Linked DNA regions of Homo sapiens. The protein of the gene in region 3 interacts with the protein of the main gene of each other region in a pairwise test. Each region holds a gene or a part of one and is shown on either strand. Other genes may lie near its edges.

Region 1 (7,619 bases), on a different chromosome or scaffold from region 3:
GGTGCTCATGACGCGGGACAGCAGTGAGCAGAGCCTGGGCTCACAGGAAGCTCACAGCATGTGCCTTGGGCCCAGAGGCGGCCACCTGGGTGGGTGCATAGCACACTACTTTGCACAGGAACAACGGCTAGCGGTGGGTGGGCGTCTGCTGGACGCGTGGGTCACTACAGGGGCCTACACAGGTGAGGATGAGCTTCCTGGAACAGGGGGCAGCCTGTCCCGGGAACAGTGAGTTGGGGGACCCCTCTTGGGAGACCCAGGCATCTGGCACCCTTGAGAGGGCCTCTTTCCCCCTGTCATCTCCCAGCTCAGGGCTGGGGGAGTTTGGGACAGACGTCTTCAGGTGCCTCCACCCAGGCCATGGCTGGCTGCTTAGGGGATGCCTCCAGGCTGGATTCCCCAAGGTGGCAGGGTTGTGGCTGGCCTTGGAATTGGCATTGGCATCTGTTGAGTTGCTTTGGCCATGGCAGCCCCAGGTTCTCCTTGCTTGATCTCTCCAGGAGTCTGGTGGCCCTGTACAGAAACAAGCAGAAGAAACAAAACCCTACCAAGTCCTCCCTTTTCCTCCTCCTTTGCAACAAAGACTTCCCTTCACAGCCACCCTGGTCCAAGTCAACTGTGAGGGCACTGGCCTGCCGGGTACCCAGTACCCCTGCTGGGGGTCTTCTCATCAATCTTTGGTCTCCTTGCCTGCACAACCTCTGGCTGGCACTGGGCTCCCGGGGCCTTAGGGTCTCCTGTCCTCACTGGCACAGGGCCTCCAGGGTGCTGCCTTCCTGGGGCTCCCCTAGTGCAGTGTAGATGATCCTGAAGACGGGATGGACCCTGTGGCCTCCCCTGCAGGGCTTTACCTCTGCCCCCCAGCTCTTCCTCACCAGCCCTGGCACCTGCTGGCAGGGGCAGGCCCCAGGTAGGCTCCTCCAGGTCCCATGTGGCCTGGGGGCCAGTGGGCATGTTCAGCTCAAAGTCCACAGGGTGGGTATTTAGGGGTGGTTGGATGAGCAGGACAGAACCCCCAGCCGTACCTTCTTCAGCTTCTGCTTCTTTGGGGTCCCCATCTGAGGCCCAGGCACCCCATGTGCTGGATGCAGTGGCTCCCTGCTTTCCTCTCCAGCACCTCTTCGGGGACCTGGACCTGACCCCCACTGAGCCTGTTGCCAGGTGGTCTTGGTTGCTGAAGTCCCTTCCAGCTGGCCAAGGGTGAGAAGGCTTGGCCTTGGTCTGGCTGCCCTGTCCCTCTGCCCCACTCAACTCATCTGCTGTTTGTCTGGGCTTCTCTTTCCCCTCCTTCCAATATCTCTTTTGTCTCCTTGGCCTGTGGTAGGAAATGTTGCCCTGTTCTCCCGAGCCTACTTGGCCTTGGACTTGGGATGGCTCTTGTCCCAAGCCCAGTTCCCGTTTCCCGACTCAACTGCAGCCTGTTTCTTCTGCTTTACCAAGAGCAGGTTGGAGGGGTTGATGCACTGTACCCTGATGTGGCCGTCTTCCCCACAGCTATAGCAGAATGTGTGGCGTTTCCGTTTTCTTGAGCCTCGAGAGCCAGCCCTTGCCACACCACCCCTTCGGTGTTGGCCTCTGCCCCTCCGGCGCCGGTAGCCCTGGGAAGGCCTCGCATCAAAACTGTTGCCAGAGGCAGGGAGAGGTACTGCCCCAACCCCAGTGATCCTGGCAGGTGGCCTTGGGGCTACTTCCAGCCCCTCCAGACTCTCCCTATCTGGACCTAAAGTGGCCTCCCATTCCTCCTCCTCACGCAGGAGCTTCACCAGGGCCAGGAAACCAGGAGGCTTCCTTCGCTGTTTCATCAGCTTAAGCTTATCTCGGAGTTTGTCAGGAAGGGTGGCCCCACTTAAGACTCGTTTCAGGCGAGTCTGATTCACGTTTCTACGTGATACCACATTGTTTTCTACAGCTCTTTGGAGCAGGGGTTCCAAACGTAACACAAAGCTAGATACTTTCTCTCCTGCCTCCTGATAGGCTTTACACAACTTCACCTGGGCAATTTTATGGCTCTCCACAGGTCCGAACACCTGCTGCAAGGCAGCCAGGCACTCCTCCACAGTTATGGAAGCATTGCTGGCCCGGAGCCCACTGACCACCTGGAGAGCAGGGCCCCGTAAGCATTCCATCAGCCTCCGCCTCTTTTCCCCCTCGGGCACCTGCCACATCTGTAGCATCTCAGTGGTGTGCTCAAGCCAGGCATCAAAGGCCAGTGCACCTGGGATGGATATGGTGTTCCCAGAAAACACTCTTAGTTCTCGGTACAACATTTGTTCTAGCAGAGGCTGCACTGCTGCCCCCAGAGTCTGGGCCCAGGTCCAGAACTCTGGTGATATAGTCACTCTTGGAGCCGAACAATTGGTGTCCGACCCGAGGACTCGGTTCATATCTGACACGGTCCGCCTCTCCTCCTCTAAGAAGCGGTTCAGTCTGTTGAGAAATTCCCCATCTGAGTTACGGGGTTTTACAATCACTTCCCAGGGCCCCCCCTTTCCTGGTATTTCCCTTGGGAGCAAAGCATAGTCGATATCTTGTGCCAGCTCCAGTAGAATCGCCTGGGCGTTCTCCTCCCTCCTAAACATCCTGCCAATCACCCTGTATCTGCCCAGGTGCCTGCAAGCCTCCTGGAGTGTCTCCTCAAACTCATCCTCGCCACAGTCCTCGGGGATCCCCAGGATGAGCATGCACCTCCGGGTGTTCAGGTGTTCCCCCCGACACCAGTCCTGTAACAAGGTCAACGGCATGTCCTCGAATCTCTGCGGATACTAATTTGGGGGGAGTGATCAGGGCGTGAGGCACATATCTGGATCAACTCCTAGGGTGATCGCAGAAGGCCCAGGTCTCCACAGCCTGTGAATGCGAGCAGGGCGAGAGCGAGGTTAATGCCCACCTCTCCGCACGCCCACATCCACGCCCACCCCCACCCCCACCCCCAGCCGCCCTCCTCCCCGGGCGGCGCCTCTGCAGCCAGGCCCCGCCCCTGCCCAGCCCCCCACCCCCACCCCCCGTGGGGTCTCTGCGGGCCTCAGCCCCCTCCCCGCGCTGCCCCAGGACCCTGGACCCCTGCCCTGCAGGCTGCTTCAGTTCTGATAGGGCGGACAGGCGAGGGGCGGCGGAGTCTCCCGGGGCCCAGCGTCTCCCTCCCCAGGTGGGTCTGTTACCTTCTCCCAGGGCAAGGTCCCTTCTGGTCGGGGTCCCCAGAGGGCTCTCCGGGGGCTATGCGCGGCGGCGGCGGCGGCGGCGGACGGGGGTCGGGCACCCCTGGCTCCCAGCGCGGACGTTCGCTCAGACTGTGGCTCTCCCTCGCTCGCGCAGCACGTGGGCCAGTGCGCCGGCGCCTGCTCGCCGCGGCTCTCTGCAGTGCGGACACGGGGCGGGGGCGCGGCGGCGGTGCAGCGCGGACCCCTCCGCGTCGTCCGGGAGACCGCAGGGCCATTGGCGCGGACGGGTCACGAGGTCGGGCTCTCGCCGCCGCCCCTGGGGGCCCCAGGTCCCCGGGTGACGTCACCTGCTCCTCTCCCCTAGCCCCCCCGCCACGGGGGCCCCCGGGCCCCCGGGCACACAAGCGCCCGCCCACCCCCATCCCCACTGCGGTGGCCAAAGGTCTGTGGCGGCCAGTCCCCGTGCCTTTGGCTCTCACCACAGCGGTTCCTGGTCCCGGCTCCTGCCCCTCCCGCACGTGCCACGGAGGTGCCAGCGGGGCGAGGGGTCTGCACCCCGGCGTGCCCACCAGAGGGCCAGGGAGTGGTCTGAGGTGCGCCAGGCAGCTCTGCATTATGGCCAGGGTCAGGGAGCCGGGTTCTGGGGCCTGTTCACCTGCTCTTGTCCTCCCCCTCCCCGTCCAGGACTGGTCCTCTGGCTGGCGAGGCCAGGGGCACCTGGTGCGGGTGCCATTCCGTGCAGGAGATGCCCCAGGCACTCATGCAGGTCACGCACACCACCCCAAGGAGGGTCAGCCATCTCCCCGCTGTCCATCCCGCTGCTGGGACCTGAGGCCCTCCGGCCAAAGCGCTTCGCTGCCCAGGTGCCAGTGGACAGGTTTACCGGGACCTTTCCGGTTTTGTGCGCTGCAAATCTAGTGACTTGGGAAACCACTTCCAGGACTTGGAGCCCAATCCCTTGGGCCTGCCCTTCCTTGGCAGCCGTGCGCCGTGGGTTCTATTGTATCCGTTTGATCCCAGGGCAGCAGCCAAATGAAGAAGGGAGTGACTGTCCCTCAGGCAGTGGGCCCAGGTGTTCTGTGGGTCCTGCCTGCTCTGCCAGCCGCATGCTCAACTCCTATTCACACAGCTTCAGCTCCTCTCCAAACACAACGAAAAGGGGCTTGTGGTTGATTTTCAGGCCAGGTTCACCCATCCAGCCAAGTCTGGGAGGCCACCTTGCAGTGAGTGGGGCACAAAACTGTCCACTGACTTCCTGCCCCACCCTGAGTTCTGCTCGTCAGCCTGGCACTTGTCAGGGACCAAGAAGAAATGGCCCCAAGGGCTTTTTCCTGGTCAGACAGAATTCCTGAAACATCTTTACAGGAGTTATTTCATTTGCTCCTCACCAGAACTCTGAAGCAGGTATTAACATTATCCTGATTTGACTCATGAGGCTCAGAGAGATTAAGAGACATTTTCAAGGTCACACACCGTATTGAAGGTAGAATTGAGACTGGATTCTAAATTAGTGCCCATCAGTCTTTGGGTAGAATTGGGACTATTTCTCCCCTGGTTGCTTCATGCCTATTAGAATTTATTTCTCTCATTTTTGTCCATTCACAGTCCCTTGCTTTGTCACTCCAAGGGCTCAACCAGCTTCAAACTGAACCTTCATCTGCCCAACTTGCAGGGGTGGAAACAGAGGTTCAGAGAAGGGACACTACTGGCCCAAGGTCACACAGTGAGTAAATGACAAAGCTTGAGATGTCAAGGGGAGATGCCAAGTATTCATGCCAAGGCAGAGGGGCGTGTCTGGAATGTCTCCGGAAAGAAGCCTGTGAAGTTCCCAGACAGACGCAGTGATCTGTGGATGTTCTGGGCATTGGGAAAAAAGGATTTGGAAACACTGGTATCAAGACAATAGATGTGAATATGTCCAATTTGAAAAGTTTTAGAACTCCTTTATATTGGAGTTAACCTTTGCCCTTGAAACCAGTGGAAATGTCTTAATTACTTTTGCTTCCCCATCTCCTTGCATGGTAGATAACACAGCAGCACCAAAGTTGGGGAACTGATGGATAAACATTATTACTTGTAAAGTGAAAAACATAATACAGCATGAAGGAAGCAACCTCCACCGGGGTGGCCTTGCCCTGGCTTAGACCAGTAGTGACTATCGGGGTCACAAAAGGGGCAGATTCATGGGCCCCACCTCTGCAATCTGATCTGCTGAGTCTGAAACAGGCCTGGGAATTTTTTAAAGAGTTTCTGGTAATTAAATACTTTATAAAATACATTCTGCAATATTTAACATACAAAACGTACTTAAAAAGTACATCCAGTACTCCTGAATGTAGTAACTGGATGAAGACATAAAACACTGCCAGTGAGGGTAAGCGCCTGCAGATTCCTTCCCTGTTGTCTCCCACTCTTGTCCTCCATGTGCATTTCTTCGTGCTTTTTCTGCAAATGACTATATCCCTAAAAAATTGTCTTTGTCTCTTTTACACTTGGCAGAAATGATATCATACTATTCATAGTCATCACTGTATTAACTAATTATTGTTTGTGAGAATCACCATTTTGATATAAGCAAATTTTATTCCTCAATTTTCACTTCTGTATAGTATTCCATTGTGTGTGTGTGTGTACCAAAATTTATCAATTTTCCCATTGACAGATATTTAAGTTGTTTCCCATTTTTACTATCAGAAACAATGCTGCTTTAAATATTCTTGGAGAGTTCCTCTAAGTTATGTACCTAGCCATGGCATTGCTGAATCAAAGACTATCTTTAGTATTCAGAGACATTGCCAAATTGTCTTCTGGGTTGCTGTACAAATTTATGTTTCCATCAAGCTCCATATCATCACTAACATTTCATATTGTGTGACTTAAATGTTGTTAATCCTGAGGAATGTCAATTGTTATTATGCTTTTATGTAGAATTTCTATGATTATGAATTAGATTTAATACCTTGGTTGGGGGGGCATTTTTTATTCCTCTTGATTGAAATTCCTATTTTTGTCTCAATTCTCAACTGGGGTGCTTCTCTTTTTTAATTCTTTCATAGGAGTTATTTATTTACTTTGGATATTTCTTCCCATTAAGTTACTATTCCTGCACAACCAGCTACCCAAAACATACTGGCTTAAAACAACCATTTTATTCTGCTCACAATTTTGTAAGTGAGAAATTGAGAGAAGGTTTAGCTGGGCAGTTCACTCATGGGATCTCTCATGTGGTTGCATTGAGATATGAGTTGAGAATCAAGTCTAAAGACTCAACAGGGCTGGGCACCCAAGATGGTTCATTCATATGGCTGGCATTGAGTCACACTTTTGGTACTTGCAGCCCAAAGCACGCTAATTTTTATAGAAGCTCAGATAACAATAGCTCCTCTGAATCATCATTATTGGACCAATTAAGTTTTTTATTTGGACTTTAAGAAATTTCTCTGGGAAAATACACAAATGGACAGAAATTACACCTCTTAATTTAAGACTGTTATGGGTTGAATTATGTCTCCCCATACCTCAATTCATATGGTGAAGTCCTAATCCTTAGCACCTCAGAATGTGACCTTATTTGAAAATAGGGTCATTGTAGATGTACTTAGTTAACATGAAATCAAGCTGGAGTGGTGTGGGCCCCTAATCCAATGTGACAAGTGTCCTTATAGCAAGGAAATTTGAACACAGAAACATGAAGATGCTCAGGGAGAACACCATGTGAAGATGAAGGCAGAGATTGGGGTGATGCTTCCACAAACCAGTGAATGCCAAAGATTGGCAGTAAAGCCCCAGAAGCTAGGAGAAAGGTCTCTGAGCAGATTCTCCCCCACCACTCTCAGAAGGAACCAACACTGACAATACTTTGATGGTCTTCTGGACTCCAGAAATGTGAGACATTCCATTTCTATTGCTTTAGCCACCTAGTGTGGTACTTTGGTACAGTCACTCTAGAAAACTAATAAAAAGATTAAACTGCAAATCTTCGAATGGTAAAAATGCTGAAAGGTTTCTGAAATGGAATCTGGACTAGATGGCATAACTATTTAATAATGAGGATACATGAGAGCCAGAGGAGAGCAAAGGAATTACTTATAAGATAAAAAAAATAAAAAAATAAAAAAAAGAATCTGGAAGTAAAGAGACAAGAACGACTCCCCAGAGTGGCCAAAGCCCGTGCACCACTGCATCCCTCCCCCAGAGCCTATGTCCCGCCACTATCACCACCATCCCCAAGAGAAAGGCTGAAGGGGATGCTAAAGGAGATAAATCCAACATGAAGGACAAACCACAGAAAAGATCCAAGAGGTTGTCTGCTAAACCTGCTTCTCCAAAGCCAGAGTCTAAGCCTAAAGAGGCCCCTGCAAAAAAGTGAGTGAAGGTACCCATAGGGAAAAGGGTAAATGCTAATGCTGGCAGGGAGGGGAATAACCCTGCAGAAAATGGAGATGACAAAACAGACCAGGC
Region 2 (8,258 bases), on a different chromosome or scaffold from region 3:
ATTCTTGGATGTGTTCTAAATAAGCAAAGGAAAGTATATTTATTGATAAGACACCAGACACCCAGCTGCCAGGCAAAACTAATAAGGGACACCCTGGGGCTGTATAAACATAGCAAAAGAACTGATATTAACAATTCTGTACTTGGCAGACAGTCCAGACTTCTGGGTCTGCTTCTAAGGCCATATGCTTAAGTCTTTATTTAGTTATAAAGATCTGAGTGGGTGATAGCTGGGGAGGTGGTAGTGGAATACACTATAGGTTGTACATAGAATGGTGTGAGCTTGTCTCTTAGATTTCCCTCACTCTTTCAGAACCTCACATCTTGCTGTTCCGGCGCCCACTACCCAAGAAACCAAAGAAATGAAGCTGGCAAGCTACTTTTCAGCCTCAAGCTTTACACAGCTGTCCTTACTTCCTAACATCTTTCTGATAACATTATTATGTTGCCTTCTTGTTTCTCACTTTGATATTTAAAAGATGTTCAATACACTGTTTGAATGTGCTGGTAACTGCTTTGCTTCTTGAGTAGAGCCACCACCACCATAGCCCAGCCAGATGAGTGCTCTGTGGACCCACAGCCTAAGCTGAGTGTGACCCCAGAAGCCACGATGTGCTCTGTATCCAGAACACACTTGGCAGATGGAGGAAGCATCTGAGTTTGAGACCATGGCTGTTACAGGGATCATGTAAACTTGCTGTTTTTGTTTTTTCCTGCCGGGTGTTGTATGTGTGGTGACTTGCGGATTTATGTTTCAGTGTACTGGAAACTTTCCATTTTATTCAAGAAATCTGTTCATGTTAAAAGCCTTGATTAAAGAGGAAGTTTTTATAATCTAGTGCTGTAATTGTACGGGTTTTTTCCCCCTCACTCAGGGTGAGCATCATCAATATCATGGTTCTAATTATATGCCCTTCAGTTTGATAATGAAGCTCAGCTCTTTGCTGATAATGAGGTTTAACATTGAGATAACTGGTTTTTAATCTACTTTAAGCAGACTTGCTGTCAAACATCTACTGAAATATATTTCACTCTAACTACTAGCCTGAGGTAGAGGTTATATAGGGACAACTTCATCTCATCCAAACAAATGAACTGCTTCCTACAGTCGGGGTGCTGCCTTTAACATAGTCCCAATATTTGAATGGCACACATGGATAAAAGGATGCTGTCAGTCAGGGGCTGCTTGTGTGTCCCAATTCCTAATAGGAATAATAGGCATATCTATGACCTATTCACTGTGCCCCTTGGTTGGGGAAGGTTTTCAGCTGTTCTTAACTTGGCTTGGGCGTTGGAATCACCTGGGGAGCTTTACAAGTACTGATGCCTGCCTGAGTCATTCTTAAGGATTCTTAATTGGTCTGGAGTGTGGACTGGGGGTAAAGATTTCAGGCATCTTATGCAGGTAGGTAAAGAACTAAGCTTTGAGAAAACAGGTGCAAAATGTAGCTGTTTAAGAAAACATTCCAGGCCACACGTGGTGGCTCACACCTGTAATCCCAGCATTTTGGGAGGCTAAGGAGGGCAGATCACTTGAGGTCAGGAGTTCGAGACCAGCCTGGCCAACATGGTGAAACTCCCGTCTCTATTAAAAATACAAAAATTAGGCTGGGTGCAGTGGCTCATGCCTGTAATCCCAGCACTTTGGGAGGCTGAGGTGGGTGGATCACCTGAGGTCAGAAGTTTGAAACCAGCCTGGCCAACATGGTGAAACCCCATCTCTACTAAAACAAAATTAGCCGGGCGTGGTGGCACACGCCTGTAATCCCAGCTACTCCGGAGGCTGAGGCAGGAGAATCACTTGAACCTGGGAGGCAGAGGTTGCAGTGAGCTGAGATCACGCTATTGCACTTCAGCTTGGGCAACAAGAGTGAAACTCTGTCTCAAAAAAATAAAAATAAATTAGCCGGGCGTGGTGTGTGCCTGTAATCCCTGCTACTCAGGAGGCTGAGGTGAGAGGATCGCTTGAACCCGAGAGGCAGAGGTGAAAGTGAGCCAAGATCACACCACTGCACTCAGCCTGGGCGACAGAAGCTGTGTCTCAATTTAAAAAAAAAACATTCCACAGAATAATAACTTCCCCTCTAGTCTAACAAAACAGTAGTACTAAGTGGCCGGGCGTCGTGGCTCACGCCTGTAATCACAGCACTTTGGGAGGCCGAGGCTGGCGGATCATGAGGTCAGGAGATCGAGACCATCCTGGCTAACATGGTGAAACCCTGTCTCTACTAAAAATACAAAAAAATTAGCTGGGCAAGGCGGTGGGCGCCTGTAGTCCCAGCTACTCGGGAGGCTAAGGCAGGAGAATGGCGTGAACTCGGGAGGCGGAGCTTGCAGTGAGCCGAGATTGCGCCACTGCACTCCAGCCTAGGCGACAGAGCCAGACTCCGCCTCAAAAAAAAAAGAAAAAAAAATACTAGTACTAAGTAAGGATATTAATCTCCCCCATTTTTCCTGTCTTCCATCCACTTATTCCTAAAATAGCAGGCATCAACATCGGGAAAATTCATTAGAAATGCAAATTATTGGGCAACAACCTAGACCTACTGAATCCTAAACTCAGGATTGGGCACAGCAATGTTTTAACAAGCTCTCCAGCTGATTCTGATGTACACTTAAGCTTGAGAATCCACTAGGAAAATACTGGAACAGTCTTGGTATTCTGTTTTGGGAGGGGATCAAATATCACCTGTATTGCTAATAAAGATATTGGAACATGTGGTTTACTAGGCAAGTGGAATTCTTGTTTTGCCCTTTTTTTTTTTTTCAAAGAGCTGACTTTTTATAATTGAAAGAAATGAGGGCCAAGTACGGGGGCTCACACCTGTAATCCCAATACTTTGGGAGGCCAAGGCAGGGAATCACTTGAGCCCAGGAGTTCAAGACCAGCCTGCGCAACATGACCAAACTCCGTCTCTACTAAAAATACAAAAATTAGCCAGGCATGGTGGGGCGCCCCTGTGGTCCCAGTTACTCTGGAGTCTGAGATGGGAGGATCACTTGAGCCCAGGAGGTCGAGGCTGCAGTGAACGGTGCTTGCGCCACTGCACTCGAGCCTGGGCAACAGAGAGACCCTGGTTCAAAAAAAAAAAAGGGAGGGGGGGCTTATTACTTAAAAGAATGGTCTAGACACCTGATCACCTGGGTCCACCATTCACTGTGTTTTGTGGTTGTGTGGCATCCCTTCACCTTTCTGAGCCTGTTCCTCATCTGTAAAATGAGCATGATGTGTATCTTACAGGGTATTTTTTTTCTTTTTGATGGAGCCTCGTTCTGTCGCCCAGGCTGGAGTGCAGTGACACAATCTCGGCTCACTGCAAGCTGCGCCTCCCGGGTTCACGCCATTCTCCTGCCTCAGCCTCCTGAGTAGCTGGGACTACAGGCTCCCGCCACCACGCCCGGCTAATTTTTTGTGTTTTTAGTAGAGACGGGGTTTCTCCATGTTGATCAGGCTGGTCTCCAGCTCCTGACCTCAGGTGATCCGCCCGCCTCGGCCTCCCAAAGTGCTGGGATTACAGGCGTGAGTCACCGCGCCCGGCCTTTTTTTCTTTTTTTCAATTGAGAGAACTCAAGCAATCCTCCCTCCTCAGACTCCCAAAGTGCTGCGCCCGACCAAGGGTTTTGAAGAGTAAAATTTGGCAAGGTGTGGTTTACCAGTCCTACAAAGAATGAATTCGGCCCGGCGCGGTGGCTCACGCCTGTAATCACAGCACTTTGGGAGGCCGAGGCGGGCGGATCACGAGGTCAGGAGATCGAGACCATGCTGGCTAACACAGTGAAACCCCGTCTCTACTAAAAAAAAAATGAAAATAAAAAAATTTTTAAAAAAAAGCCGGGCATGGTGGCGGGCGCCTGTAGTCCCAGCTACTCGGGAGGCTGAGGCAGGAGAATGGCGTGAACCCGGGAGGCGGAGCTTGCAGTGAGCCGAGATCGCGCCACTGCACTCCAGCCTGGGTGACAGAGGGAGACTCCGTCTCAAAAAAACAAAGAATGAATTCGGGCCCTTACCATTCAAAATGTAGTCCATAGAGCAGTGGGATCACCATCACATGGGAACTAGCTAAATGCAGATCTCAGGCCCCACCCAAACCTACTGAATCAATCTGCATATGAAAAGATCCCCAGATTATTGTTGGAAAAAAGTTTAAGATGTACTTTTAGAACAAAGGCAACTGAAATGGGGGTAAGCTCGGATGATGTGAGGATCCAGAGTAAACATGTAAGGCACTCCCTATTCGCTGCCTCATTTGCACCTACAAGACCAATTACTGGGAAAGGTCATTTGAACTAAGCACCATCTGGAGCAAGGTGGAGGAAGAGAGGGTTTTTGGACTCTTTCTTGTCAAAGAGATTTAAGTAATTCGTTTTGTCTACTATACTAGAGATAAATTAAGGTTCCACACATCAAAAGCTCACCTACTCCAGGGTCTTCATATCCGACAGACAGTGGTAATAATCTTTCTCGGTGTCCCTCCAACTTCCTTCTGCTATAAATAAGATGCTTTCTCACTCCAGTAAAAGCCCTTAGCCTAGTGTTAGAGTCACGGTGAATGAAAACAGCTTAAACCATGGCTAACTGACCCATTAAACAAAACAAAACAAAGCAACACATGCATAACAATTATTTGAATCCAGCACCAGAAACTCCCCGAGGGCCTTACAGCACCTTTAACTACGGCTCCTTTCCCGCCCTAAACTCCCGAGGTCCCGCCCCCGACCGTGGGCTAAGGTCCGGCCCCCGTATTTCCGGGCGAGAAGTGACCACGTGGTTGTCGCCTATAACAATCCGGCCCTGCTCCCATCCACTGGCTAAAGCCTGAGAGCGACAGTTGAATACACCAATGGGACCCTGGAAGAGTCTAAGCGACAGCCAAAATCACCATTCAATGTCAGCTAGGTGCAAGGCGGGACTTTAAGTACGGAAGCTGCCCCGGGACATGAGGAAAGGAACAAGGGAAAGAGCCGGTGAAGGGGCAGAACAGGCAGGTGAGAGTCTAAGAGGGCTCAGTAATCTGAAGCTTGGTGGGAAGAAGGGATTCTGGGCTAGAAAGGGTGCAGAAGCCTGAAGTAGAAAGAGACGGGATTTTGGTCCGGGGTGGAGAGCGAATGCATTGAAAAGGGCCAAGGCCCAGGATAAGGTAGACATTTAAAGGGGTACGGATGCCCAAGGTAGAGCAGACACTTGAGGAGACCAGCTCAGCAAACGGAAGACACTTAAAGTGGTAGGTTCTCAAGAGAGAAGAAGTTTTTAAGACTAGAGCTAAGCAAGACATTTAAAAGGACATGGGTTGGGATTTGGGAACACGTTTATTCCAGAGGCAGGAACAAAGGAGTCGCTTGTCAAGGATCTGGTTAGAGAAGACTAGGGTCTTCCTCGAAGGAAGCACGCGCACGCCTGCTCTCCCCCATTGTCTTTTCTGGCTTCTCCAGGTTCCCTCGACCCAGGACCCCCTGTTCCCAGGCTATGGCCCCCAGTGCCCTGTAGACCTGGCAGGCCCCCCGTGCTTGCGACCCCTATTTGGGGGTCTGGGTGGCTACTGGAGGGCCTTGCAGAGGGGCAGAGAAGGCAGGACCATGACATCTAGGGCCTCTGAACTTTCTCCGGGGCGCAGCGTGACGGCTGGCATCATCATTGTTGGAGATGAGATCCTTAAGGTGTGTCTGGGACAGAAAAGGGGGGAGGGCGCTGCGTTCTCCTGTCCTTAAGGGCCTGCTGCACATCCCTCCATGGAAGGAGGTGAAACAGGGTGGGAGCCTCTTTGCTGCAGTAGGATCCTGGAGTGAATCCAGCATATTGGAGGAAAATTAACCCTCATTCTTTCAATTACTCTACTGAAAAACTTGTAGCAAAGTCCCTACAATTTTTCAACCTGAGAGAGCTGATTGAAAAAAAGAAAAATAAAAAGGTCATTGCAATTTACCAAGCAGTATGGTAGAGGGCAGAGGAGCTACACAACAATGACAGGAAGCCCCTCGAGTAGAGGAGGTACAGGTGTGTGTATTGTATATTTAAGAGTTTTGGCCGGGTGCGGTGGCTCACGCATGTAATCCCAGCACTTTGGGAGGCCGAGGCGGGTGGATCACGAGTTCAGGAGTTCGAGACCAGCCTCAACATGGAGAAACCCCATCTCTACTAAAAATACAAAATTAGCCAGGCGTGGTGGTGCATGCCTGTAATCCCAGCTACTTGGCAGGCTGAGGCAGGAGAATTGCTTGAACGTGGGAGGCGGAGGTTGCAGTGAGCTGAGATCGTGCCATTGCACTCCAGCCTGGGCAACAAGAGCGAAACTCCGTCTCAAAAAAAAAAAAAAAAAAAAGAGTTTTACCCAGCCTTTTTGGAAATGACTCAAGGTACTCAGCGTAGTGGATAAGTGAGCTAGAAGGAAGGTACTAGAAGGGATGAATCCCCTCCGAATGATCAGGAAAGTCTTACTAGAGGACATAACAGATGACACGGGTTTTTTTGTTTTTGAGACAAGATTTTGCTCTGTCACCTAGGCTGGAGTGCAGTGGCACAGTCACAGCTCACTGAAGCCTCCATCTTCCAGGCTCAAGCAGTCCTCCTGCCTCAGCATCTGGAGTTGCTGTGACTACAGGTGTTAGCCGCCACACCTGGCTAATTTTTTTTTTTTTTTTTTTTTTTTTTTTTTTTTCAGAAACGGTCTCACTATGTTGCCCAGGCTGGTCTCAAACTCCTGGGCTCAAGCAATCCTCCCACACCTTGCTGGGATTATAGGCATGAACCACTGAGCTTGGCCAAATGTCAAGTTTTAATAATAATCTTTTTTAATATTCTTTGTAAATTTGTGTTTTTTTTGTTTTTTTTGTTTTTTTTTTTTAGATAGTCTCACTCTGTTGCCCAGGCTGGAGTGCATTGGTGGGATCTCAGCTGACTGCACCTCCACCTCTCGCGTTCAAGCAGTTCTCATGCCTCAGCCACCCGAGTAGTTGGGATTACAGGCATGAGCCACTGCACTCAGCCTTAATAGACCCTTTTTTTTTTTTTAGACAGAGTCTTGTTCTGTTGCCCAGGTTGGAGTGCAGTGGCGTGATCAATTTTGGCTCACTGCAACCTCCACCTCCCAGGTTCAAGCAATTCTCCTGTCTCAGCCTCCCAAGTGGCTGGGACTACAGGCATGTGCCACCACACCTGGCTAATTTTTGTATTTTTAGTAGGGACGGATGGGGTTTCGCCATGTTGGCCAGGCTGGTCTCGAACTCCTGACCTCAAGTGATCCACCCACCTCAGCCTCCCAAAATGTTGGGATTACAGGCGTGAGCCACCTCACCTGGCCCTGACCCCAATTTTTTTTTTTTTTTTTTTTTTTTTTGAGACAGAGTTTCACTTTTGTTGCCCAGGCTGGAGTGCAATGGCTCGATCTTGGCTCACCGTAACCTCCGCCTCCTGGGTTCAAGCGACTCTCCTGCCTCAGCTTCCCGAGTAGCTGGGATTACAAGCATGGGCCACCACGCCCGGTTAATTTTTGTATTTTTAGTAGAGACGGGGTTTCTCCATGTTGGTCAGGCTGGTCTCGAACTCCTGACCTCAGGTGATCCACCCGCTTCAGCCTCCCAAAGTGCTGGGAGGCATGAGCCACTGCGCCCGGCTGTGTGTGTGTGTGTGTGTGTGTGTGTGTGTGTGTGTGACGGAGTTTCGCTCCTGCTGCTCACGCTGGAGCGCAAATGGCGCAATCTCAGCTCACTGCAACCTCTGCCTCCTAGGTTCAGGCAATTATCTCACCTCAGTCTCCCGAGTAGCTGAGATTACAGGCACCCGCCACCACGCCTGGCTAATTTTTGTGGGGTTTTTGTTTGTTTGTTTTGAGACGGAGTCTCGCTCTGTCACCCAGGCTGGAGTGCAGTGGCGCGGTCTCGGCTCACTGCAAGCTCCGCCTCCCGGGTTCACGCCATTCTCCTGCCTCAGCCTCCCGAGTAGCTGGGACTACAGGCGCCCGCCACCACGACTGGCTAATTTTTTGTATTTTTAGTAGAGACAGAGTTTCACCATTTTGGCCAGGCTGGTGACCCCTATATTTTAAGTGCCTACTAGAGTCTGGTAGTGTCCTATACATCACATATATGTGATTTTACTAATCTTCACAACAACCCCACACAAAAATCCCACGAAGTTGGCACTTTTTTTCTTCTTTAAAATTTTATTTTTCTGTGTGCATTTGTTTTATAAACGGGGTTCTCGCTATGTTAAACAGGCCAGCCTCAAGCAATTCTCCCACATCAGCCTCCCAAAGTGATGGGATT
Region 3 (7,752 bases):
AGGCATGAGCCACCGTGCCCGGCCGCAAACCTACAATTTCTAAAGTGTGAATGTGACAATTTTGTGCAATACGCAACGCGCAAAACAATGGAAGTGCTGATATTCTTTTGAAAAACAACCCTTATGGCCATGTGGACTATCAGTAAAAGAGAAAGAGACAAGAAATTCAGAAGAGAGATGAGACCTCAACAATGGCCGAAGCAAAGGGGATGGAGAGCAAGAAGAGCCAGGAGAAATCTGGAAGACATACTTAATTACTGATGACATTTGGGGAATGACAAAGGAATAAAAGGACACACTGGCCAGGTGCGGTGTCTCAGGCCTGTAATCCCAGCACTTTGGGAGCCCAAGGCAGGCGGATCACGAGGTCAGGAGTTTGTGACCAGCCTAGCCAACGTGGTAAAACCCTATCTCTACTAAAAATACAAAAATTAGCCAGGTGTGGTGGCAGGTGCCTCCCACCTACTCGGGAGGCTGAGGCAGGAAAATTGCTTGAACCCAGGAGGCGGAGGTTGCAGTGAGCAGAGATCGCACCATTGTATTCCAGCCTGGGCGATAGGGCAAGGCTCCATCTCAAGAAAAAAAAAAAAAGGCGAGACACTCACCAAAGACTTCAAATTTGGAAGATGCCCATTAACAAAAATGAAAAATACACAAGGAGACATAATTTGGGGATAAAAAGGAAAGTGAAGAGAGAAGGACCAATTTCATATTGAAATGTAATTATTTTAAGTTGCCTGTGGAAGATCCAAGACTCAAGCTGTGATATGTGGGTATGAAGCTCAAGAGAGGGGAATGGACTAAATGCATATATTTGAGAGGCATCAACATGTCACAGAGGCTGAGGCAAAGAGAGAGAGGATGAGATCACCCAATGAGGTGAAACAGGGAATTATGGGCAGAGAGAGATTGCCTCTCTAGACTCCAGACTCTTATCAGTGCTCAAGCCTCTAACATGCCTCTCCCGGAAACCTGCCTATAGTCAAGGCAGCACATATGCCCTCTGCACAAGTTTCATGTCCATAAGCAAAGAAAAAAGAAACCCGATTTTTAAAAATCAGTTTCATTACCATCTGCAAAGACAAGACAATGCAAGGCAAAGTGAGCAAATGACAGCTGAGGAGATGCAAATTCAAATGAATAAGATTAGTGCGAGTATATGAGTACTAAGGAGGTAAAAAGTCCTGTATTAGCCAGTACAGGCTTCCAGAAACCTCCTGGTTAGAGATGGCTAGGAGCCAAGGGGACTGATAAAGAAGAAATGGAGTGGGAGGGGCCATTCCATTTTAAAAAGCACAAGTGACAACACAGATTTCGGCAATGGCAAGCCATAGGTCGGGGTAAAAGCAGACTTAGTTGGCTGAACCAGAGGAGCTGCCTCGGAGAGTCACAAAAAAAGACAGAGGTGTTGAAAGAATACTAGGCTGAAAAGTTTACATTTACCATAATCAAGAGGAGACAACTGCCAGGTTTTGAGCTTCACAGTAAGATAAAACAACAGCATCCAAAGAACACTTAACAGCTGTGTGTAGGCAGTCTAGCATGGAGAAATCCAGAGTCAGAGATTAGTGAGGAGGCTGTTAATATAACGTGAGCCAGAGAGGTCAAAAAGGCAGTTCAGCAAGTCTCTGTGAAGGAGCTGATGCAGGTGCACGAAGAGTCAGCTATAAATCTAAAATCCTAAACCTGGAGCCTCAAATGATGATGGTGTTATGGGCAGGTCCCACTTTTAAATGCTATGCGTTCCAAGGGGCATCTGTTTGCACTTGCTGGAAACAGATGAATGAGCAGGTAACAGACTGAGAAGTGAAATATGTCTTCACTAGGCATTGGGAAATATGTGGTGACTGACTACTCATACTGACAATAAGAGAAGCCAGAAGAGAACAGATTTTGAGAGCAGGGCAAGAGAGGAATCCAGTGAGCAGCAGAGAGCATGGCTGGCAGATGCAGGATAATAAGAACTACCCTTTCTGCCCTCCATCAATACAGATACTTTATTCCCCCAAAGTTCTCAAGTTATGGTGTTCCTTTTTACTACTTCCTGAGAAGCTGAAGTAGTGACTGCACAACAGTTATGTAACCAACCTTAAATAGTAACTTCACCCGTTTCAGCCTCCAATTCCAACTTTTAGAAATGGAGTGTTTTACAATATGGCAAGTGCAGAAGGATGGGTGTTCCTGAATCTTCAACCCAGTCCCTCCAGTAAAACTCCATAAACTGAAAACTATGACAATAGAGGTCATGTCCATTTTCGCTTATCAATATATCTGTAGCACCTAATCTAACACTTGGCATACAGCGGGCATACAATAAATATTTACAAGTGAATTATCAAATGCTATTTACTCTCTGCATGAGAGTAATAATTATCCCAGTTTTCTTTCCTGCCTTCTCTCTCCCTTCCTTCTATGGCTCTTCTTACGATGGAATGCTCTGTTCCTCTCTTTGGGCAATCCCATCCATTCTCACATCTAGGTGGATAAATCCCAATTCTCTATTTTTCACCTCTATATCTTTTTTTTTTTTTTTTTTTGAGACAGAGTTTTGCTGTTGCCCAGGCTGGAATGCAGTGGCGCAATCTCAGCTCACTGCAAACTCCACCTCATGGGTTCAAGCAATTCTCCTGCCTCAGCCTCCTGAGCAGCTGGGATTACAGGGGTGCATTACCACACCTGACTACTTTTTGTATTTTTAATAGAGACGGGGTTTCACCATGTTGGCCAGGCTGGTCTCGAACTCCTGATGTCAGGCGATCCGCCCACCTCGGCCTCCCAAAGTGCTGGGATTACAGGCGTGAGCCACCGCGCCCGGCCCAGCTCTATATCTTTCATTCTAGAGTTGAGGGGATCCGTCAGAAAGAAATTCTGATTATTCCTTAAAGAACTCAAGTGATCTGATAGACCACACAAGGCCAGAAATCAGGTAACCTCAAATAGTGCTGTCCAATAGAATTTTCTGCAATGACGGAAATGTTCTAAACCTGAACTGTCCAATAAATTACCCACCACGTGACAATCGAGCATCTAAAATGTAGCTAGTACAACAGAGAAACTACATTTTTTACTTAATAGTTAAATAACTCCACGTGGCTGGGGGGCTACCATAATATCCACCACAGTCCTGGAAACTTGCCCTGCCCTGATCCATCTCAAGTCCCTCAGGCCTGAAGTTAAGCTCATCATACTGTAACTCCACAGTGCTTATGTATTTCACCTCCCGTTCCTCTTCACAGAACTAGTCCCACTTGCCCATCCCTCTCTCTCCTCTCTTCCCCAAGAAACACATACATACTGGCATACCTGCTTTGTGCTCTGCTCTATTACATTTGAAAGATATTGCATTTTTTACAAATTGACAGTTTGTGGCAAATCTGTGTCAAGCAAGTCTTTCAGTGCCATTTTTCCAACAGCATGTGCTCACTTCAGGTCTCTGTGTCACATTTTAGTAATTCTCACAATATTTCAAACTTTTTCGTTATTATTATATCTGTTACAATGATCTGTGATCAGTGATCTTTGATCTTTGATGCTACTGGAAGAAAATGCCATCTAGGACTTTCACAGGTAGAGAGAAGTCAATGCCTGACTTCAAAGCTTCAAGGACAGGCTGTCTTGTTAGGGACTAATGCAGATGGAGACTTTAAACTGAAGCCAACGCTCATTTACCATTTCAGAAATCCTAAGGCCCTTAAGAATTATACTCAGTCCACTCTGCCTGTGCTCTATAAATGGAACAACAAAGCCTGGACGACAGCATGACTGACTGAATATTTTAAGATCTCTGTTAAGAACTACTGCTCATAAAAAAAAGATTCCTTTCAAAATATTACTGCTCATTGACAATGCACCCAAGATCCCTGATGGAGATATATTATACAGGGAGATAAATATTGTTTTCGTGCTTGATAAAACAACATCCATTCTGCAGCCCATGGATCAAGGAGTAATTCTGACTTTCAAGTGTTATTAATTAAGAAATACATTTCATAAGGGTATAGCTGCTATCAACTGTGATTCTTCTGATGGACCTGGAAAAAGTAAATTGAAAACCTTCTGAAAAGGATACAACCATTCTAGATGCCCTTAAGAACATCTGTAATTTATGGGAGGAGGTCAAAATATTAACATAAACAGGAGTTTGGAAAAAGTTGATTCCAACCCTTATGGATGACTTTCAGGGGTTCAAGACTTCAATGGAGGAAGTCACTCCCAATATAGCAGAAATAAAGAGAACTAAAATTATAAGTAGAACCTGAAGATGTGACTGAAATGCTGCAATCTCATGATCATACTTTAATGGATGAGGAGTTGCTTCTTATGGATGTGCAAAGAAAACGGTCTCTTGAGATGAAATCTATTCCTGATGAAGATGTAATGAACATTACCAAAACGCCAACAAAGGGCTGGGTGTTATGGCTCACACCTGTAATCCCAGCACTTTGGGAGGCCAAGGCGGGCGGATCACGAGGTCAGGAGATCGAGACCATCCTGGCTAACACGGTGAAACCCAGTCTCTACTAAAAATACAAAAAAATTAGCCGGGCGTGGTGGCGGGCACCTGTAGTCCCAGCTACTCTGGAGACTGAGGCAGGAGAATGGTGTGAATCCGGGAGGCGGAGCTTGCAGTGAACCGAGATCGCGCCACTGCACTCCAGCCTGGGCGACAGAGCGAGTCTCCGTCTCAAAAAAAAAAAAAAAAAGAAATTGCCACAGACATCCAAACCTTCAGCAACTATGACCCTGATCAGTCAGCAGCCACCAACGTCAAGGCAAGACCCCCCCTACATCAGCAAAAAGATCACAACTCACTGAAGGCTCAGGTGACTATTAGCAATTTTTAGCAAAGTACTTTTAATTAAGGTGTGTACATTGTTTGTTCAGCCATAATGCTATTGCACACTTAACAGACTACAGTATAGTATAAACATAACTTTTATATGCACTAAGAAACCAAAACATGCATATGTTCACTTTATTGCAGTTGTCTAGAACCAAACCCACGTCTCTGAGGTATGCCTGTATGTATACCCTTCAAGTATAATATACTGAACAGCATCTCCCAAATAAATCGCTCTTTTTTTTTTTTTTCTGAGACAGGGTCTCACTCTGTTGCCCAGATTGGGTGCAGGGCGTCATCACAGCTCACTGCAGCCTCAACTTCCTTGGGCTAAAGTGGTCCTCCAGCCTCAGCCTCTGGAGTAGCTGGGACTACAGACACACACCACCATGCCTTGCTAATTTATTTTATTTTGAGATGGGGTTCTCACTATGTTGCCTACACTGGTCTGAAACTCCTGGCCTCAAGCAATCCTCCTGTCTTGACCTCCCAAAGTGCACGGATTACAGGTAGGAGCCACACCTGGCCTAAGTCATTCTTAATATGGTCTCCTGGTATTCCTTTCTCCTAAAACCCAAATCCTATTTAACTTTCAAGCCTCACCTCCTCCCTAAAGCCTTCATTGAGCTGTCTTCTCTTCTCTACATCTTATTATTGGATGTGGTCAAACTACCTTCACAGTTCTCTGACTGTTTAATGTGGATGTAATTCTACTTTCCAAACAAGATTATAATCTCCCTGCTAACAGACTGCATCACTGCCTACGCATTCACAAAACAATGAGGAGGGGTTTCGGGAGATCACTGTCCTGGGCCAGGCCTAGTCTTTACTCCAGGATCCCCCGGTTTTCAGCACCTTTATCAAGTGCATACTATGTGCTAGGCACTATGCTAAATGTCTTACTTACATGGTCTCATTTTAACACTCACAACTCCATTCTGAGAAGAGAAAATTCAGGATGAGAAGATAAGTAACATGTTCAAGTCACATAGCCAATATGTGCCAGAACTACAATTTGAATTCCAAAGAATGGGTTCTTAACCACTGCATCATATAACTTTTGGCTTCACTCATTTGATCGTTCAGTCAAAATTACTACACTCCTGTGTATCTTGTGCCATTCTAGTACTGGGAATAAAGAGATAATATATGAGCCCAGCCTTCAAAAAACTCAGCCTTAGCCAGGCATGGTGGCACGTACCTGTAGTCCCTGCTACTTGGGAGACTGAGGTGGAAGGATTGCTTGAGCCTAGGGGTTCAAGTCCAGCTTGGGCAACACAGCAACACCTCATCTAAAAAAAATAAATCTTGTGGAGGAGAAAAACACAAACAATTATGTTAATAGTAGATGTGGTAAACATGATGATTGCTCTGTGCAAAGGGTGGAAGCACAATGCTAGAGTACCCAACCGAGATTGGGAGGAAGGAGGTGTCAGGAAAAAATTTCCTGGAGGAGGTGGACCTAAACTTTATAACTGAGTCCCATTTATAAACTGGGTTAATTAGGTGAAAAGGAGCAGCCTAATTAGGTGAGGAGCAGGAGGTGGAGAAAGGAAACAGGGAGAAGATTCCAAGCAAAGAGAACAAGGGCAAGTACACAAAGAAGAAATAGCACAGTACCCATGAAGATGCCATTCAGTGTTGCTGGAACCTAAAGCATGAGGCAGAGAAGAGGCTGGAGATACAGGCAGGGTTCAGAACAGGCAGAGCCCTGGCTGAGAAGCTCAAACTTTAGAACTTTCAATGGATTTTGCAAGCCAGTAGACAATGAATGTTTGCTGAATGAATTAGAGAAAAGAATGGATGAATGCATGGACAGATCTTTAAAGATTAAGCAGGAATTTGATACAGACTTGTTTCCAAAGACCATCTGGGGGTGGAGGGGAGTAATGTGAAGAAAAGATATGGGGGAACAGGCCTAGAAGCAGGGAAATCAGTTAGAAGGCCATGATATTGCAGGTAAAAGGACAACAGTAGAGATGGAGAAGACTGCACAGATTTGAGAGATGTTTAGGGGGTAAAACTATCAGGACTTAGTGATGAATGTGATAAGAGTTAAGTCCAGGAAAGACACTGAGTTCAGTTTCAGTCATCTGAATTTGAAGTGTCTGTGGGACTTGCAGGCAGAGCTGTCCAGGAGGATAGTCAGATGTGAGGGTAAAGCTCAGAGAGGTCTAAGCTGACAATTTCAATTTGGGGGCATGTAGGAGGTAGTTAAAACCAAGCCAGCTGATGGGTTCACTCAGGCAATGTGTACAGAATGAAAAGAACAGTTTTCATTCTGAATGCTGGTAATATTATGTATCTGTAACCTAATCTGGATGGTGGTCACATAGGTATAATCATTTTATAAAAACTGGTCAAGCTTCACATCCACATGTATGTTTATTGCAGCACTATTAACAATAGCAAAGAGTTGGAACCAACCCAAATGCCCATCAATGATAGACTGGATAAAGAAAATGTGGCACATATATACCATGGAATATTATACAGCCATAAAAAAGAATGAGTTCATGTCCTTTGCAGGGACATGGATGAAGCTGGAAACCATCATTCTCAGCAAACTAACACAGGAACAGAAAACCAAACACCACATGTTCTCACTCATAAGTGGGAGTTGAACAATGAGAACACATGGGCAGAGGGAGGGGAACATCACACACTGGGGCGTGTCAGGGGGTGAGGGGCTAGGGGAGGGATAGCATTAGGAGAAATACCTAATGTAGATGACAGGTTGATGGGTGCAGCAAACCACTATGGCACTTAGTATACACCTATGTAACAAACATGCACGTTCTGCACATGTATCCCAGAACTTAAAGTATAAAAAAAAAATTGGTCAAGCTAAAAAAAAAAAAAGAACAGTTTTTCATTGTTTATATGCCAAAGTCACAAACAACAGAAACACC

Evidence for each region.
Region 1: the proteins of APTX (region 3) and PNMA3 interact in binary tests that used the Homo sapiens proteins (3 or more experiments, as listed by UniProt).
Region 2: the proteins of APTX (region 3) and FLAD1 interact in binary tests that used the Homo sapiens proteins (3 or more experiments, as listed by UniProt).

Annotation. Positions count from the first base shown.
Region 1 is NC_000023.11:153,052,178-153,059,796, reverse strand, and holds the start of PNMA3 (paraneoplastic antigen Ma3), read right to left. Parts: upstream 3,328-7,619; 5' UTR 3,159-3,327; intron 2,848-3,158; 5' UTR 2,742-2,847; coding exon 1,350-2,741; 3' UTR 1,316-1,349; coding exon of another isoform or gene 1,253-1,315; 3' UTR 1-1,252.
Region 2 is NC_000001.11:154,978,413-154,986,670, forward strand, and holds the start of FLAD1 (FAD synthase), read left to right. Parts: upstream 1-4,931; 5' UTR 4,932-5,282; coding exon 5,283-5,654; intron 5,655-8,258. Other genes in the region: CKS1B (cyclin-dependent kinases regulatory subunit 1), read left to right, coding at 313-365. UniProt on the Homo sapiens protein: Catalyzes the adenylation of flavin mononucleotide (FMN) to form flavin adenine dinucleotide (FAD) coenzyme.
Region 3 is NC_000009.12:32,991,202-32,998,953, forward strand, and holds part of APTX (aprataxin), read right to left. Parts: intron 6,148-7,752; exon of another isoform or gene 6,042-6,147; intron 1-6,041. UniProt on the Homo sapiens protein: DNA-binding protein involved in single-strand DNA break repair, double-strand DNA break repair and base excision repair.